Homo sapiens: one gene and its partner. The protein of the gene in region 1 purifies or fractionates together with the protein of each later gene. This does not show direct contact. Each region holds a gene or a part of one and is shown on either strand. Other genes may lie near its edges.

Region 1 (3,747 bases):
CGCAGGGAGCCCCGCCTCCGCGCCGCGCGCCGCCGCCGCCTGGTACCGCCCGGCCGGGAGAAGGTGAGATTCGCGCGGCCTCGCGCACACCCGCGGCTGGGAGCTCGGGACTGCGGTGACGGGAGGGGCAGTGTGGTGACCCACCCAGGATTTTTTTTTTTTTCCCGTGAAAGTCCTCAAGCCTGTCCTCTCCCTGGCCCGATCCTATTGCAGCGACAGAAAATCAGCAGCGGGCGGGTCTGTGTGGACCTGAGGGCCGCGTGGGGACCGAGGGGGGCTGTGGCCCAAAGAGTGGCAGTGAGTGGCGTCAAGGAACCCACACTCCGCATCTGCCACTCCTAGAGCCGGGACTAGCTCCCGATCCTAGCAGTTGCTCTCGAGATCATCCCGGGAGTTATTGGCGAGTTCTGGGCCTCTGGAGGTTTCCCTGTCAGCCTCCCCGGCCGCCGAGGGGGCGCGCGCCCAACAAGGGGGTCTCTAGCGGCCACCTGGGGACAGAAACAGTGACCCTGGGCGCGCACTTTGCCTCCCCGTTAGAGATGTCGCCCACGGGATCCTTAACGAGGCCTACCGCAAAGTGCTGGACCAGCTGTCCGCCGGGAAGCACCTGCAGTCGCTCGTGGCCCGGGGCGTGGGGTAAGAGTTTGTGGAAGGATTAACCTGCGCGCGCCGGGGTGGGTGCCTGTGCGGGGCGCGCGGGGCGGGCGGCGGTGGGTGCCCGTGGGGGCCAGGGTGAGTCTGCGCCCCTGGGTCTGGGGTGGGCATCCGCCACGGGTCGCAGTTGGAGATTTTGAAGTGGCACTTTAAATTTGCCCAGAGAGCTCTGGAAGAGGCAAAAAGGGAACGCGAGCCAGGGAGTTTGATCCGTTTTGAATGAAAAGAAAGAGAAACCAAACCAAACCTCTCAGTCATCCAAAACCTTCAGGCTTCCAGGGAGGTTTTGCTATAATTTTCTCTAAGCATGACTGTTTCTGGGGGAGGGGAAAGGGGTGGTTGTATTTACTGAAAATTCAAATCGAAATAATAAATGGCCAAATGTGGACACTTATGGACCCAAACAGTTTTGCTCACGCCAGAGAAACTGAGAGCACAGGGCTTGTGTGAAGCCTATCTCGGCAGAAGGCAACATTCTAATAAAGCCCGTGGGAAAACAGATTACATTTTCGCCATGAATAAGTCATGCAGTGAAAAATATTGCCTACAGCCTGTCGACTTATATTATTATCACGTTTTTCAACTCGGCGTGAGGAGGGAGAGGAGTGTTCATATTTGACTAGGAATTGCAGGATCGATGCAAACTCCAGGGCAGCAGCCAGACTGGCATATGTAGGGCTCTCCGGTTACTTTCTCTGTATGTCGCGGGTGAGAGGAACAGCGAGGACAATTTAGCGCAAACACACGAAGGGTCGGATCTCAAGGGGGCAGCGCTGGGAGAAAGGTTAGGCTTGAAGCGCGCGTCGCCTGCCCGGATCTTATCCCGGGCCCCCTCCGCAGGGTTTGGTGCCAGGAGATCCTGCGTGGGGAGGGGGGCATCGAGGGGCTGCCGTCTCGGCCCTCCCCACGGCTGCTTCCAGGCAGAGGCGGGCGACGCGGTGGGCAGTGCGAGCCCCGGGCCCTCCCCGAAGGCTCCCGCGTGGGGTGGGGCCCGCCTGCTCCCCGCGGCGATTGAACCTGTGTCTCCCGCCCCGCCACCCTCTTCCCGACCCCTTTGCTTGCAGTGGGAGCCTCGGCGGCGGCGCGGGGGACGACGCGGAGCCGCTCTCCAAGCGCCACTCGGACGGGATCTTCACGGACAGCTACAGCCGCTACCGGAAACAAATGGCTGTCAAGAAATACTTGGCGGCCGTCCTAGGGAAGAGGTATAAACAAAGGGTTAAAAACAAAGGACGCCGAATAGCTTATTTGTAGCGATGGGTTACCAGCTACCCTGTGTATACAGCCCTGACGCAATGAAAAGTCGTTTTCCAAACTGACTCAACAGTCATCGCTCGTGTGTTCTATCCAAACATGTATTTATGTAATGAAGTAAAGCCATTAAATGAATATTTTGATAATAATATTGTTTTTCTTTCTACAAAGCACTAGAGAATGCACAGATATACTTTGTGGACCAATTATTGATATATATTATAAATATATATAAAGAATATATATATATATATATATATATATATATATAAAGTATAGAGAGAAGTTCATACAAAGCGTGCACAAGGATTGAAAATTCGCCCGAGCTGTTTATGTTTTTATAAAAATAAATAGAAAAGTAGACAATCATTGTTTTGAATATTACTCCTATTTTTGTAAACTGGAATTAAAAGGATAGTATTTTTATCCATGACAGGCCTGAAGATATTACTACTTACCATTTGCTACTGTACATAAACAATGATGCCCTGCTCCAGGGAGATTTTGAGGTAAAGATATGGAGAATTGCTGAAGGGCATTCTTTCCCAGTGAGTCTCTGGGGCAGGCTGCTTCAATCCCAGCCTAACTCAACTGGGCTCTGTCCCCCTGGTTGGGTGGCAATTCCAATATTTCTGCTTTCTTTGATTCTCCTTTTATGTGTAGTTGTCTCTCTTCAGACTCTCAGCCCAGAAGAAAATTCTCCTGATAAAACAACAGCTCGATCCAAATTGTGCTTCTCCCCAGAATTCACGCCTCTCCCTAGGAGAAGAGTTGAGGAACTGTACAGAAAAGGGCGGCTTCGTTAGACCGCTCTCTTTTCTGTACTTCCTGAGTGGCCAGGGAATCTAATATCCCCAAATTAGGGCAATTGGAACAAAGTGAAGGACATAGAGGTATATTGGAAGAGGCAGAGCCTGAGGTGGTAGGAGGAGGACCCTGGAAATGGACTGGTTTGAGATTGCCCCAGGTCTGGGAAGCTGAGGGCAAATCCAGTCCCAATGGTCCTGACTTTGGGCGCTGGGTATTGGAAATGGATGCAAAGTACAATGTGTTTTTCTCCAGTGCTGTCCATGCTTCTCATCTTGTGAAATGGCCAGGATCCTCTCCTTTGAAACCTGCTCTGTAGGAGCTACCCTTTTCCTTTGTGGTTTTATGGAGACCTCTCCTTCCTACCCTCCTGCACTGTTTAAGTACTGTTTACCATTTTTCATTCACTTCTCTTAAACTTGTGAATGCTTCTCACTTTTTTTTTTTGTTTGATGCAGGCACTTATTGTAAATTTTAGAAACCCCTCTGTAGCCACTAGTAAGTAATTATGCACTAAATATGAACCCTTTGTTTCTTGTTTATTGAGTTTGTAGGTAAAATGTATTTTTCTACATTATTGCTTATTGCTTAGTAAAATTTATTTCATAAAACCAACCTTTGTCATATTAGAATGTGTAGTGTTCACATGTTGCTCAGTTTTGCTAACTGATAAATCATTTAATCCTCTTCTTCATATGTATGAGTACTATCTTATATCTGTGGTCAAGAGTGAGGTAAGCAAGCTCCAACAGACCCTGAGAACCTACGCTTGTATCCTTTCTTTGGCTAAAGAAAGCATGTCTGTTTCCTGTCAATTCTTTGAACATACAGAGTAATCTTTATAAACAAAAGAACCTTCACCCAGCAATCAGATCGAGCAGCAACAGACAAACCAGCCAGCCAATCTCCCAAATTTCAGGCACAAGTTTATTTATTTATTTTTTTATGTTTTGAAAAAAGAAGATGAAGAAGAAGAAAAAAAAAAGAACAAGGAAAGATTAAACGTTAGCTTGTAAAGTTTAAAGGACCTTT
Region 2 (3,747 bases), on another chromosome or scaffold:
CTTGAAAACAGCTTAAGACATTCCCAGTTAGAAAGCAAATACCTTTAAAACAAGACAAAAACCTGAATATGCAGACCCTCTTATTATTCATCAAGTAAACAATATTGGAGACACTCATATTAATAAGCTTCAGAAACTAACACTGGACAGAAACAAATATCTGAATAAATAAGGCTCAACACTTGATGTAACGACAACAAAACAAAGTAGATCAAAAGTTATTTGCTTAACTGTGACAAACATTAACAAAACTGCACGTTCTACACATGTACCCCAGAACTTAAAGTATAATAAAAAGTGTGACAAACATAATTCACGATTTCAAGTAATGTCTGATAAACTTTATTTGCAGCAAACAGCAAGCTATCACTTAAAAACAGCCAGAAACCTAACTGCATGTGTGACTGAAAATCAAGTTGTTAAAAAAAAAAAAAAACAACTTAAAAATCAAGTTTCGAGTTACTGATGTACTCAACTGACATATATTTTGTTGAAAGTATTGCAAGTACCACCATAAATCTGGAAGGCTGACAATGTGGTTATGATGGAAAAACATGCTCTCCCATCTGTGTGATCTTGGGCAAATACTAGAAACCTAACTTTCCCAATTACAATATGAGGTAATACTTAAGTCACAAGGTTACTACCAGCTTCCAAGAAGGAAACTTAAGCAAAGGGCCCAGGGCGCAGTAAGAGCACCAAAATACCAGCTCCATGCCTCACAAATGTCCTGAACACACAAGAATTAAAAATTCAAGAGATTCAACTCAAAAATCAAATACTTACATTAAGAAGAAAAGCAGCGGGGGACCGGAGGTGGGGATTGGGAGTGGGATCTACCCTATTAAAAAAAAAAACTTTTCGAGGGGGGGGTTCTCTAATACGATAGAAATTATTTTGAGTTGCCTTCTTGGAATCTCACGAATATAGCCAAATACAAAGGCTTTTGGCTCTCTGCTCTGCTGTGTAAGAGTGATGAGGCTTTGGGTGGCGGCTACAAGAACGACGGTATGCTTTTCACCTTCTCAAGTCTGCATCCGGCAGCAGGACTAAGGAATTCTGCCCCAGAGTTCGCACAACTTGCAGCACAGTCGAGAGACACCCGCAATGTTTGCAAACATGACGCACATCTCGACGCATCTAAAAGAGTAAAAAGTGTCCCTGTCTAATTACTTTTACTCCTATAGCATTAGGTGATAAGCAATTTAAATGTTTCCTACTCTCTCTTCCAGTAATCAAAACCAACAACTCTGCCTGGTGGGGCGAGGAAGTCTGTTATTTTTAGGGGGTGCTCTTGGGGGGGTTAGGCGCGGGGGGGACTAACCCAAGTTTCTTACTCTTATGGGCTTTCAATCAACGAATACCACTTCAGACACAAGAAAATCTCAAAACCAGTATTTCACGCGACCAAGGACGAAGGAGAAGCCCTGGAGACCCGCCGGCGCCCCCGCCAGGGTCCCCGGAGCACCTGGCCGCCTGGGCCAGGTGTGGGCACGCCCCGCCTGACACTCACTCCGAAGCAGAGGCGACGTCTCCTTCTTCACGTACTTCCCCTGCACCTCGGCCGGCTTGGACACTTCGTTTTTGGTTTTCTTTCGGGACAGCATCCTTCTCGACGAGGCCCGAGGCCGCGCTGAACTGCCTCCCTAGGGCTCCGCGCCGGGCGCCGGCCGTCTCCGCCGCCACCTCCGCCGGCGCCGCCGCCTCCTTCCCTCCCGAGCCGCCGCCTCCGCCGCCGCCTGTCCGGAGCCCGGGGTCGCCCGCAGGGACTGCCGCATGTTCAGGGCGCTAAGCGCGCCGGCCGCCGCTCAGTCGCTGGTCAGTTCCTTCCCGGAAGTCGGCCCGCTCTGCGACGCTGCTCGGGGACGCCGTGAGGAAAGCCCAGCGACGCCGGGCCAGGGCCAGGGCCATGGTCCGCCGCGGGCCGCCGAATAACCGCTACCACTACCGCCGCCGCCGCCTACATCCCGTAAACTTTCCCCGCGGCCGCTGGGAATTCTGGGAAGCTCGACGCAGCGCGGGCCGCCGCTGCCCCTCCCCCACCGCGGCTCCAGGCGCGGCTCCGGCGGCGGGACTCGGGTGCCGGCGCTCTAGGCTACCGGGCCGTCCCCGCCGAGCTGCGGCTGTCCTCACTCATCCTCAGCGAGAAGCAGGTCCTGCCGACTGAGAAGATGAAGGACGAAACCTGCCCCGCTGAGTGCGGGAGTTCGTCGCATGCGCATGTCGTGGAACCTACTCTCCACGAGTTTTTATTGTTGTTGCTTTTGTACCCCCTCGGGATCCCTAGCGGAGGCAGTGACTCTCTTTCCCCCCAAGACGTTGTTCCCTGTTTGAAGGTGTTCTTCCTAATGTTTCCTAGGCTGCTGAATTCAGCTCTCTAAAAAATGCGGAATGCTAACCATGACTCCCAGGCAAGTGCTACACCAAAGCATCTATTCTGCTGGAAACGTTCATGCTGATTAACTAGAAATAAGTTGATCCTCTACTGAGTATCAGGGAGTGCGTTTTTCTATAACAGGAAAAAACGGAAGAATGCAAGATGGAATTTCCAGTACCTCTTTTTAAGATACAATTGGTGTTAGCATATTACAATTATTTTATTGCATCATCACTATCATTAGTATGATTAATAGCCACATATTTCCTCCTGACGTTATGTGTTATGATCTTAGAATTTTGAAGACTTTGACCACTGCGAGTCGGGACCGGGAATTTTCTATCTAAAATAATAGACTCTACTTCCTTCTATATAACTTAGCAAGACTGCCAAATGTACAGGATAACATTTGGAAAATAAGATTGGATTCATCCCCTAGTGACCAAATTAATGCTTTAATAATGAGGAATGCTTTCCCTGAGATCTAAAACATCTCACAAGAGATCTAAGACATATATCACAATTAACAAAAGACATGGAATTTTTTACCACGTAAGATTAAGAAGATGGTCAAATGTTTTACCATGAGCAAACAAAGGAGACATTTGATCTAGTGTCTGTCTCCATATGTTCCCTTGGTGCAGATCTCCCACAATTCATTCATTAACCAGGAAATACTCATTACCCACTGCGCTAGTCGTTTGTGATAGAGCAATAAGCAAAACAGACAAAAATCCCTACTGTCATGGGAAAGAGAAAAAAATGACAAAAAATAAGCAAAACATACTATGTTAGATAGTGATAAGTGATGAAGTGAAAATAAGAGAGGACTCACAATTTTTGAGAGGGTAATAGAGGGACCAGAGAAGGCTCATGAGGAGGTGACATTGGAGTTAAGTGACAGAGTGAGGAAATTGGCCATGCAGCTAACTGGAGGAACAATATTCCAGGCAGAAAGAACAGCAAGTGCAAAGTCGCTGCAAGTGGCCATGTTCCTGGCAGATTGGAGGAACAGTAAGAGGGTTTATGTACTGGAAAAGACGGGGAGACGAATGGGGAATGCAGTTAGAGAGTAACAATAGCCACGGCACCTAGGGCTTTGTAGGCCATTGTAAGGAATGTTACTTTGAGCAGAGGAGTGACATGATCTGAGTTAATGTTTTCATAGGACTGCTTTGGATGCTGTGTGGAGAGTAGACAATGGAGCTAAGGGCAAAAGGGAGATCAGTCAGAAGTTATTGCTGGCTTGGACCCAGGCAATAATAGGTGGAGAGGTAAGTGGACATATTTTAGACATATTTTAAAGAAAGCCAACCAAATTTGCTGACATTGAATATGGAGTGTGGGAGTATCAATCACTGCCATGGGTA

Evidence for each region. Proteins that work in one complex are often made in the same cells at the same time.
Region 2: the proteins of ADCYAP1 (region 1) and SAV1 purify together in Homo sapiens (affinity purification with mass spectrometry; 4 studies listed by BioGRID and IntAct, with this or other methods). This does not show direct contact.

What each region holds. Positions count from the first base shown.
Region 1 is NC_000018.10:907,728-911,474, forward strand, and holds part of ADCYAP1 (pituitary adenylate cyclase-activating polypeptide preproprotein), read left to right. Parts: coding exon 1-63; intron 64-537; coding exon 538-636; intron 637-817; coding exon of another isoform or gene 818-863; exon of another isoform or gene 864-1,705; intron 1,706-1,718; coding exon 1,719-1,908; 3' UTR 1,909-3,747. UniProt on the Homo sapiens protein: PACAP is a neuropeptide involved in diverse array of physiological processes through activating the PACAP subfamily of class B1 G protein-coupled receptors: VIP receptor 1 (VIPR1), VIP receptor 2 (VIPR2), and PACAP type I receptor (ADCYAP1R1).
Region 2 is NC_000014.9:50,666,361-50,670,107, forward strand, and holds the start of SAV1 (protein salvador homolog 1), read right to left. Parts: upstream 1,947-3,747; 5' UTR 1,608-1,946; coding exon 1,514-1,607; intron 1,141-1,513; exon of another isoform or gene 1,022-1,140; intron 1-1,021. UniProt on the Homo sapiens protein: Regulator of STK3/MST2 and STK4/MST1 in the Hippo signaling pathway which plays a pivotal role in organ size control and tumor suppression by restricting proliferation and promoting apoptosis.